Regions from separate parts of the Homo sapiens genome. Here region 1 is linked to region 2. A link means that fine-mapping ties the variant in region 2 to the expression of a gene that starts in the linked region. Tissue or cell type: whole blood. Region 2 holds a variant in brackets; the other region holds the start of a gene. All regions are shown on one strand. Distances are between the middles of the regions.

Region 1 (5,707 bases), 130 kb before region 2:
ATTTTTTCTTCCTTTTCTTTTGAGACGGAGTTTCACTCTTGTTGCCCAAGCTAGAGTGCAATGGCACGACCTTGGCTCACTGTAACCTCCGCCTCCCGGGTTCAAGTGATTCTCCTGCCTCAACCTCCCAAGTAGCTGGGATTACTGCAACCTTCGCCTCCCAGGTTGAAGCGATTCTCCTGCCTCAACCTCCCGAGTAGCTGGGATTACAGGCATGTGCCACCAGACCTGGCTAATTTTTTGTATTTTTGGTAGAAACAGGGTATGTTAGCCAGGCTGGTCTCGAACTCCTGACCTCAGATGACCTGCCCGCCTCAGCCTCCCAAAGTGTTGGAATTACAGGCGTGAGCCACCATGCCCGGCCTATTTTTTCATACTTAATTGACCCATTTATTTTTATCAAATGTCCTTTTTATCACTGATAGTGCCCCTTGAGTTGAATTCTACTTTGATATTAATATAATCACTCCACCTTTCTGATTAGCATGTCCTTTTGCATCTTTTTAATTTCAGCCTCTTTGTGTCCTTATATTTAAATTATGTCTTTTTTTTTTTTTTTTTTTGAGACCAGGTTTCACTCTTGTTGCTTAGGCTGGAGTTCAATGGCGCAATCTCAGCTAACTGCAACCTCTGCCTCCCGGGTTCAAGCGATTCTCCTGCCTCAGTCTCCTGAGTAGCTGGGATTATAGGCATGTGCCACCACACCCAGCTAATTTTGTATTTTTAGTAAAGACGGGGTTTTGCCATGTGGGTCAGGCTCGTCTTGAACTCCTGACCTCAGTTGATCCACCCGCGTTGGCCTCCGAAAGTGCTGGGATTAACAGGCATGAGTCACTGTGCCCGGCCAAAATTATGTCTTCTTAAAACAGAATATATTTGGGTCTCGTTTTTAATCCAATGTGACAATTTCTGTGTTTTAATCCATTTACAGTTAGTAAACGGATTACATGTTTAGTCCATTTACATTCAATGTGATTACTAATGTGGTTGAAGTCTAACTGCTTGCTCTTTGTCTTTGCCTTATGTGCTTTTTGCTCCTTCCTTCCTGCTTTCTTTTGGATCAAGCATATTTTTGTATTCTATTTTATCTCTTTTCTTGGATTTTTAGCTGTATTATTTTTTATTAATTGCTCTAGGGATTACAATATTTTATTATTTTAAGACGGAGTCTTGCTCTGTCGCCCAGGCCGGAGTGCAGCGACACGATCTTGGCTCACTGCAACCTCCACTTCCTGGGTTCAAGCGATTCTCCTGCCTCGGCCTCCCGAGTAGCTGGGATTACAAGCCCACACCACCATGCCCGACTAATTTTTGTATTTTTAGTAGAGACGGGGTCTTCACCATGTTGGCCAGTGTGGTCTCGAACGCCTGACCTCAGGTGATCCGCCCGCCTCGGACTCCCAAAATGCTGCGATTACAGGCGTGAGCCACTGCGCTCGGCCGGGATTACAATATTTTAAATTATCACAGTATAACTTGAATTTGGGTTCTATCATGTCATCTACAATGTAAAAACCTTTGGAATCTAATTTTGAGACTCCACCCTAGGCACAGAAAAGGAGTAATCTGCTGATTTGAAAATGTGTGGACTGGGAACCAGAATGTTATCCAAAGCCCCTGTTTTGCAGGAATGTGAGAAAGTGATATCCGAATATTGAGTCAACTGGTAGATTGTCTCAATCCGCTGGTCAGGATTCATTTGCTGCTTTTTGCCTTACCGCAGAGCACAAGCGGGGGTAACCAAACCTTCATAATCTAGAGACCAGACTAGAATATCTGATGCCCATCCTTACTGTTCTCCGTAAGAACCAGGGGTCGCGGATGAATGGGGAGTGAGGTTGCTGCGGCTGAGCGGGGCGTTTAGGGCAGTTTTCCTAAACACGCCTGTGACCAGCTGACTCCACTCAGCGTTTCCGTGTGAGGTATGTTTCTTCACCGGCCTTTCAAGATTGTTTTTTGGCACGAGCTCAAATCAGGTTTTCTTCCGTCCGCCGTTCCCGCAGGTCTGCGCACGGATTTGTCCCTGGTTCCCGCAGGCAATGGGGCCGCAGGGGCCGGCCGGGGGGGTCCCCAGCGGGCTCTGCGCGCCGACCTGCAGCTGGGACCCGCGCCTGGAACCCTCCCGACGAGCGCAGGTGAGCGCCTCCTGCCAAGTGGGGCGGCGCCACACGGGCGTCCTGGGTGTCCCCCTGAGCTCCTTCCGCAGCTCAGGCCAACCCCCGCCCTGACCCGGTGGAGCCCCGGGACAGGGTGCGGACCCCGTTCCTTCGCGCTCCGAACCGGACGGACCCGCAGGAGGACCCCACGCCCGCTCCGCTCCGACCCCGCCGTCCCGCGCAGGCTGCGGTGACCCAGGCCGGCAGGTAGCCAGGGGCTCTCTGCCTGGGAGGACACCTTCGGCGGCTGGCGTGGGGAAAGGGGCCGCCCGGCCGGGGATGCCCCGCCAGGAGGAGGGAGCGGCCGGGGCCGCGGCCGGGAGGGAGGAGCGCCGGGAGGAAGAGGCCGAGCCGGGAGAGCCCCCGCCCCGGGAGGAAGGGGAGGAGGCCGAGTGTTTCCTGGCGCATTCCCGGCCAGCCCGAGTGACTCACTCGGCCAAGGAAACTCCCAGGGCCCGCCCAGGACCCCCAAGCCGCCGCGGACGCAGGTGAGGAACCCCGCTCGCCCGCGCCTGCCCTGCGGCCTCCGCGGGGTCCGGGTCCCCCTCGGAACCTGGGCCGGCCAGGGCGGCGGCGGGGCCGGGACGGACCCCCCCCTCCCCCCCAACCCCGGCGGCGCGGCCTCCCCGGCGGCGCGGCCTCCGGGATCGTCCTGGTCCCCGCGTCCCCCAGGTCCCGGCCCCGGGCTCCCGCGCCTCCCGGGCTCCAGGTCCCCGCACTCCCTGCACTGGCTTCCCGGTCCCTGCGCCCCCGGCCTTTCGGCCTCGGCCCCGAGCTCCCCGCCCCCGCGTTCACCGCCTCGCGCCCCCGGATCCCGGATTCCGCGCCCCGGCACATGGCACAGCTCCAGTGGCGAAGGAATACCTTAGTGTTTGACGTTTTTGTTGGAAAGTAAGGAGCAGGCAGATTGTTAATGTTGCACTAAGGTCGCGCAGCAAGATCTGAACCCGTTTTTGTTTCGTGCCCCTGTGAGGAGCGGAGGGAGCCTGGTCCGCGGAGCCATTCCGGGCATTCTTGGAGAGAGGAGTTTTGGGCTTTGTTAAGGAGGCGCGATCGTTACGGAGGCAGCACTGTTTCGCACAAGCATCTGAATTGTGTATTTTAAGGCTGAAATGCGTGAGCTTAATTTGCAGCACATTGTGGGTGTGACAAGAAGGGTGCAAGAATAATCGGGAAACGGGGTTGATGGAACGTGTTTTAAGCTGAGAGGGGCGTCTGGACGGTGTCAGCTCCGCTATTAAGTCCAGTCAGGGAGCGGCTGCTGATTGAGCCCAGCGCCGCGTGGTCGCCGCTGGGGACTGAGGCTCGGGAGCGTTTGTTTTCTGGCGGCGGAGGGCACCGTGGCTGCGCCGGGAGCGGTGGTGTTTCTTGCAGTCGTCCGTCGGACTCCGGAATGAGGCGTGGTCGGAGCCGCGGTGATGCCTGGTGCAGTGCGCACATTGCTATGCTTGACAGCTTGGCGGCAGAGTCCCGGCCAGGCCGGGACCCGCGGGGGCCCCACGCATGCTGCCTTTTCCCTGCGGGTGGCCAGCGGTTTTCCAAGTGATGTCTAGATCTGCAGGCACGGAGCCTGGAAGAACGAGTCACGCTGTGAGTGGGCGCGGGCCGTAGCAGGTGTGCACTCGTAGGGCCAGTAGGGATATAGTGCCGGTGCCCTCACTGCGACCGAGGCGCCCTGGAGTCGTGGCGGAGGACGTTTCCTGCGTTAAGACAGGTGTCTGTGCTGCGCTCAAAGAAAATGTACCCCCTAAGTTTGTGTGTGTGTTTAAATTTATTTTAAACTTTTAGTAAGATTCACTTTTTGGTGTTCAGTTCAGTGAGCTGTAGCAGGTGCATGGACTGTAGTGACTTCCACCGCAGTCAGGATACTCAGGAAGGCAGCCTCTCTCCTCCCCGCTCTTGCAGCCGCCTGTCTGTTCCTCAGTCCTCCTGCTTTGCCCATTCCAGAATGTCACATGTGGGCTTGGAGTCTGGCTTGTTTCGCTTAGCATAAGGCGTTGGAGATTCAGCTATGCTCTGGTTTGTCCCTGAAGAGTAAAGATACAAGGGTCTGAAAAGTGTGGCTCTCGGATACAGCCTGAGAGAGAGACTAAAATGATAAAGTGATGAGAAAAATTACAAAACTATAGTTCATTAAAAACATTAAACAGCATAGAACCGTGTATACTAAAAGTGAAATTCCCTCGGTACTTCTAAGTAGTATAATAGTCTTTTCTGTGCATAAGTAATTTTTTAAATAACATAGTGAGATCATATTGCATATATTATCGTCATACATTTTTCACTTAATGATGTTTGGTTACTTAAAGATCTTAGCAATCTTTACATGTTGATATATATAGTCTGTACACACAGATTTCCCTCAATCTTTTAAATAACCGTATAGTATTCCTTTTTTTTTTTTTTTTTTTTTTTTTTTTTTGTGACAGAGTCTTAACTCTGTGGCCCAGACTGGAGTGCAGTGACGCAAACTCGGCTCGCCACAACCTATGCCTCCTGGGTTCAGGTGGTTCTCCCACCTCAGCCCCCTGAGTAGCTGGGATTACAGGCACGCACCACCACACCCGGCTAATTTTTGTCTTTTTAGTAGAGACGGGGTTTTGCCATGTTGCCCAGGCTGGTCTTGAACTCCTGACCTCAAGTGATCTGCCCGCCTCAGCCTCCCAAAGTGCTGGTATTACAGGCATGAGCCACTGTGCCCGGCCAAATCACTATAGTATTCTGTAGTGTGGATGTTTCATAATTTTATCAGCCTCCTGTTGATTGACATTATAGTTATTTACTGTTTTTCACCACTACAGTCAATGCTTGTGTCTGTATCTTTGTGCACATACTCAAGTTTATAATGCTAAAGGTGACTTTGGGTTTAAATAATAGCTAACATCTCCCTCCCTCCTTTGTTTTCTTTTCTTTTATGTTATGTTATTTTATTTTATTTTTTGTGAGACAGGGTTTTGCTCTTGTTGCCCAGGCTGGAGTGCAATGGTGTGATCTCGGCTCACTGCAACTTCCACCTCCTGGGTTCAAGCAATTCTCCTGCCCCAGCCTTCCGAGTAGCTGGGATTACAGGCGCCTGCCACCACACCCAGCTAATTTTTGTATTTTTAGTAGAGACAGGGTTTTGCCATGTTGGCCAGGCTGGTCTCAAACTCCTGACCTCAGGTGATCCACCCACCTCGGCCTCCCAACGTGCTGGGATTACAGGCGTGAACCACCGCGCCCACCCAAAACATATTTTATAGTGTGAAGTTTTAACTAACATGTCCAAGCTATTCTCATTGTTTTTCCTATTAAAATTTAGCCAACCCTTAGAGGCCATTGATAAAGCATGGATTAATTACACTGACATAATTTAAAAACCTTATTTTAGCCAGTGCAATAGTATCAGACAAAGAAAGAAAAGGCATACAAATTGGAAAGGGAAAATTGTCCCTATTTGCTGACAACATGATTATCTACATAGAAAATCCAGGGAATCTATGAAAAAGCTACTAGAACTAATTAATGAGGTTAGCAAGGTCACAAGATACAAAGTCAACACACAGAAGGCG
Region 2 (5,707 bases):
ACAACCTAAGACAAAATAATACTGAAACACTGGGTCGGGCGCGGTGGCTCACACATGTAATCCCAGCACTTTGGGAGGCTGAGGCTGGTGGATCACAAGGTCAGGAGATCGAGTCATCCTGGCTAACACGGTGAAACCCCATCTCTACTAAAAATACAAAAACAAAATTAGCCGGAAGTGGTGGCAGGCGCCTGTAGTTCCAGCTACTTGGGAGGCTGAGGCGGGAGAATGGCATGAACCTGGGACGGGGAGCTTGCAGTGAGCCGAGATCGCGCCACTGCACTCCAGCCTGGGCGACAGAGCGAGACTCTATCTCAAAAAAAAAAAAAATACTGAAACATTGAAAGAAAACACTCAAGTCAAAAAGGTGCTGAGTTCTTCTAAGTATCAGTCATAATCTCATGGATGAGACTGTCTACCCGAAAGCCTTCCAGAACTGACCTCTCCCTTAACAGATTTGGAAAAGTACCCCTAGTCCCTCTGTGCCATTCATAAGGCAAGATTCCATGAGAAAAGTCTTAGGTGGGGAGTTTGGAGACCCCGTCTTGCTTCCAGCTGGAGGTGTGATCTTGGATGAGTCACCACATTAACAGATATATACATAAAAAGAAAGAAGCTGAACAATCTAAGGTATTACCCACTTTATGTGCCAAATACTGGTCATCTCAAGCCTCAAGTTAACTTCAGCATATCTATGGAATAATTCTAGATAGGTGAGTCTCATTGACAGTAAAAATAAATTACAGAGATGTAAACACATTTAAAGACAAGGTAGGAGAACTTGAAACAAGATGTCAGGGACAATCATCATTTCTACACGCTGTAAGATTGCAACAAAAAGCAGGTGTGCTTACACTGTTCCCACTGCATCCTGCATGGCTTGTTGATCTGTGTTTATCAGCCAGTCTCCTGCATCAGACTGTAAGCTCCTGGGCTCCTGCATGATATTCGCCCTTTTAGCCTATGCACATAGCTATCTGGTAGTCTCAAAATAGGTCTTAATGTGTGTTTTCTGGGTGAATATGGATGAATGGAGTAATTCTTTTTTTTTTTTTTTTTTTTTTTTTTGAGACAAGAGTCTTGCTCTGTCACCCAGGCTAGAGTGCAGTAGCATGATCTCGGCTCACTGCAACCTCTACTGCCCAGGTTCAAGTGATTCTCCTGCCTCAGCCTCTGAGTAGCTGGGACTACAGGCACATGCTGCCATGCCCAGCTAGTTTTTGTATTTTTAGTAGAGATGGAGTTTCACTATGTTGGCCAGGCTGGTCTGGAACTCCTGACCTCGAGTGATCCGCCCATCTCAGCCTTCAAAAAGTGCTAGGATTACAGCCATGAGCCACCACCCCAGCCAAATGGAATAATTCATAATTAGCCCTTAAAAACAGCCAGATACAGTGGTACACACCAGGAGGCTGAGGCAGAAGGATTGCTTGAAACCAGGAGTTCAAGTTTAGCCTGGGCAACATAGTTATGCCTGGTCTCAAACAAACAAACAAAGCAGCCATTAATACACAGAAAACTACTGCATCATTTAGATTGGCATCCTAAAATGTAACCGATGTTTTATAGCTTTTAAACTTGAGAACCATAATCATTTATCCAATATGCTAGCAAGTGGCAGTACTAGATGGAAGTGAAAATGCAAGGAAAATGGTTATACGGACTACGAAAATGGGAGTGAGAAACCGAGCTACCCAAACGCTTCAGCCCTCCTGGCAGGTATATCCTTCTCATGAGTCAGGGTCACCTCACTTCAATGAAAGCATTCCTTAAGATCATCCAACATAAAAATCATCGACCAGGCGTGGTGGCTCACGCCTGTAATCCCAGCACTTTGGGAGGCCGAGGTGGGCGGATCACCTGAGGTCGGGAGTTCGAGACCAGCCTGACCAACATGGAGAAACCCCGTCTCTACTAAAAATACAAAAATTAGCTGGGCGTGGTGGCACATGCCTGTAATCCCAGCTACCTGGGAGGCTGAGGCAGGAGAATTGCCTCAACCAGGGAGGCAGAGGTTGTGGTGAGTTGAGATAGTGCCATTGCATTCCAGCCTGGGCAACAAGATAGAAACTCTGTCTCAAAAAAATAAAAATAAGATAAAATAAAAAAGATCATCTGACATAAAAATCATCGGCCGGGCACGGTGGCTCATGCCTGTAATCCCAACACTTTGGGAGGCCGAGGTGGGCAGATCACGAGGTCAGGATTTCGAGACCATCCTTGCCAACATGGTGAAACCCCATCTCTACTAAAAATACAAAAATTAGCTGGCGCAGTGGCGGGTTCCTGTAATCATAGCTACTTGGGAGGCTGAGGCAGGAGAACTGCTTGAAGCCAGAAGGCGGAGGTTTCAGTAAGCCGAGATCACCCCACTGCATTCCACCCTAGGTGACAGAGCAAGACTCCGTCTCGGAAAAAAAAAAAAAGAATCATCATCCTCCTTTAATCTTTGTCTTCATGAAGCAATGTTCTTAATTATCATGCAAGTTCTACTGCTGTGGAAGTGACTACTTGACAGCTGTATTGCTCACTATATACTTTAAGTTCTATGGTAATGGAACAAATCAAATTTATAGTCTGAATATTCTGTAAGCAATAAAATTGAACCTTCTTACCAATAAAGATGATATCCAGAAAAAAGTCAGGTTTATCTACAGTTCTAATCCCAGTATAACAATAGACTCACAAGGCCGGGCGCGGTGGCTCAGGCCTGTAATCCCAGCACTTTGGGAGGAAGAAGCGGGCAGATCACCTGAGGTCGGGAGTTCGAGACCAGCCTGACCAACATGGAGAAACCCTGTCTCTACTAAAAATACAAAAAAATTAGCAGGGCATGGTGGCACATACCTGTAATCTTAGCTACTCGGGAGGCTGAGGCAGGAGAATCGCTTGAACCCGGGAGGCAGAGGTTGTGGTGAGCCAAGATTACACCATTGCACTCCAGCCTGGGCAACAAGAGCGAAACTCGGTCTCAAACAAACAAAAAAAAAACAACAACAAAAACAAAAAACAACAGACTCACAAATCCAAATTTAAATAATAATAATAATAATTATTATTATTATTATTATTATT[T/ATTATTATTAATT]TGGAGACAGGGTCTCATTCTGTCACCCAGGCTGGAGTGCAGTGGCACAATCATGGTTCACTGCAACCTCGACTTCCCAGGCTCAAGTGATCCTCCCACCTCAGCCTCTCAAGTAGCTGGGACCATAAGTGTGCAACACTACACCACCTGGCTAATTTTGGTATTTTTTGTCGATACAGAGTTTCACCATGTTGTCCAGGCTGGTCCCAAACTCCTGAGCTCAAGCGATCTGCCTGCCTCGGCCTCCCAAAGTGGTAGATTACAAGTGTCACCCACTGCATCCTGCCCAGATTTTACTTGTATCATGAACCTTTCAAATAACTGATTTGTAACTACTTAATTTACTAATATTTACTAACACTTAATGTTAACTTTCACTAAATGCAAGTTACATACATGTGGTGTAAGGTCTAACATTAAGAGCCAGTATTACATGTTGCCTTGACATCTGGTAAAAACCAGGAGCTTTTAATGGCCTCAGGGCAAGCTTCCCTCCCCAAGATGCCAAACAATTCTCATCACAGTGACCAGGCACAGGTACAGTTGCTGCTTATGCCTGAGGAGTAGGCCCCACTGCCCTGCCAGCCCAAGGAATTCTGAAAGCAATTATTAGTCTTTCTGCAGGAACCACAGCCACTCTCGTTACCACAAAGCCTTGCCTCCCGCAGCCCCTGGTTCTCCGTTCTATCCTAAGCGAAAGACTAAGAAACTTCCGTCCATCTCGTCTGTCCAGTGTCAGTACTGTGGGATGGAAATCCCTCTCTCACTGACAAGGTGAAGAGGTGATTAAAACAATACATATAATGGAATTTTACTCATTTAATCCTAAGGCCAATGAACATTATTCCTAACCTTACTAAGGCTATCATATGAGATTTTCTCCATATTTATTTTACATAAAGTTTCATGATGCTATTTAAAATCTATTTTCCCCTTTCCCTTTTATTTTAATTTATGTGTTATGGGAAATTTCAAACACAAAAAGCAGAGAGAAGGCCTTTTCTGACCAGCTGGGTCCATCATGTGCATATGGCTTTCGAGAGTCCCCCTGGCCAGGCACCCCTCTCCTGCCCACTTCATTTCCTAACACAGAAACCTGACACCCTCAGACAGGCCCTCCCCTCCTCCTCCTCCTGCAACCCAAAGCCTGCTCTCCACTCAAGGCCAGGGTACACCTTAAGCTGTGCTACAAAGACTTCTGCAATTAACTCCAGCCCACAGGCATTTTCTCTTCTTTACTATTTAATTCTCAACTACTGTTCTATCTTCAAGGTAAACTCTTTAAGTTCCTTAAAAACAATTACTTAGGTTTTCTGTGGTGGTTTCCCCACAAAAGGCACTCATTTACGGTAGCAAATTTGATTTACAAATCTTTCTAGAATGAGGCATATCACCAAATAAGGTGATCTGGTTGTTTCTTCATGCATGGAACTGTACCAGGGTGTATGTGTGGAGGGCTGGGGGATGACAAGCAGCATACAATTTGCAAGCCTTCAAATTATAAAGCAGCCTTCTGCCACCAAGAAAATAAGTGATCTCATTCTGACTTACAGTTTGAAAATAGGACATCAGAGGGAATGTCCTGAAAGGAATGAGTTGCTTCACTATTCTCAGACCTGGTCCCACTCTGCTCCCTCTCTCTGTAACTGAAGGTCTATCACAGCCGGGAGAGCCTGCAACAGAGATATTTTTTCTTCTTAAGAATTAGCCATGAGGCAGGGCCAGTATTAAAGACAGATAAACAGTAAAATTTTCTAAATTTCACTTCAACTAGGTTCCCAAGCTCCATGTGGTTCACCTGCCCAGTTTACTTAGGGGGACTCGGGAGTAATCCGAACTGTGACCATTGCTCAACAAACACTGAGCAGCTATTATCTGCCAGGCACTGAAGTTGTAAAGATGATCAAAGGGCCTATCCTCAAGGACTCCACGACTAAGAGAATTAAAAATTCCAAAAATAACCTACTGACGTTTTAAACACTTTTAAAGAGTCTTATGATTTTCTGCTTATTCTGTGTGTGGGAGGGGAAGGGCTTTTTTGTTGTTGTTGTTGTTGTTGTGGTTTTTGACAGTGTCTCACTCTGTTTCCCAGGCTGGAGTGCAGTGGCGCGATCATCGCTCACTGCTGTCTCAAATGCCTGGGTTGCAGTGATCTCTGACCTCAGCTGCTCAAATCAACAGGACCACAGGCGTATACCACGACACCTAGCTAATTTTTTTGTTCTGCTTGTTCTCTCTACATTTTAACAAACTCTTTTTTTTTTTGAGTCACAGTCTTGCACTGTCGCCCGGGCTGGAGTGCGATGGCGCCATCTCGGCTCACTGCAACCTCCGTCTCCCGGGTTCAAGCAAGTCTCCTGCCTCAGCCTCCCGCATAGCTGGGATTACAGACGTGTACTGCCACACCCGGCTAATTTTTTGTAGTAGAGACGGGGTTTCACTATGTTGGCCAGGCTGGTCTCGAACTCCTGACTTTGTGATCCGCCCACCTTGGCCTCCCAAAGTGCTGGGATTACAGGAGTGAACCACCACTCCCGGCCAACAAGTTCAATTTTCACAATTGATTTTACTAATATTTGTAATGTGAACTTTCATTAAACATAAAGCATGTCAAAAATGGAATAAATACATC

What was found. PIP is the estimated chance that this variant, and not a neighbour inherited with it, causes the effect.
Region 1: it holds the start of CYFIP1, and the variant in region 2 is fine-mapped to the expression of CYFIP1 in whole blood (INTERVAL, PIP 0.92).

The regions. Positions count from the first base shown.
Region 1 is chr15:22,977,224-22,982,930 of GRCh38, reverse strand. It overlaps CYFIP1 (cytoplasmic FMR1 interacting protein 1), which reads left to right and starts at 2,563. Exons shown (of 31, transcript NM_014608.6): 1 at 2,563-2,644. RefSeq lists enhancers at 2,298-3,266, 3,267-4,234, 5,364-5,707.
Region 2 is chr15:22,844,187-22,849,893 of GRCh38, reverse strand. It overlaps NIPA2 (NIPA magnesium transporter 2), which reads right to left. Exons shown (of 8, transcript NM_030922.7): 3 at 4,627-4,748. Among named protein-coding and RNA genes, the nearest start is that of NIPA2, 8.4 kb to the right of the region's middle. RefSeq lists enhancers at 4,459-4,568, 5,123-5,232. The variant T/ATTATTATTAATT (reference allele first, on the strand shown) is at 3,076.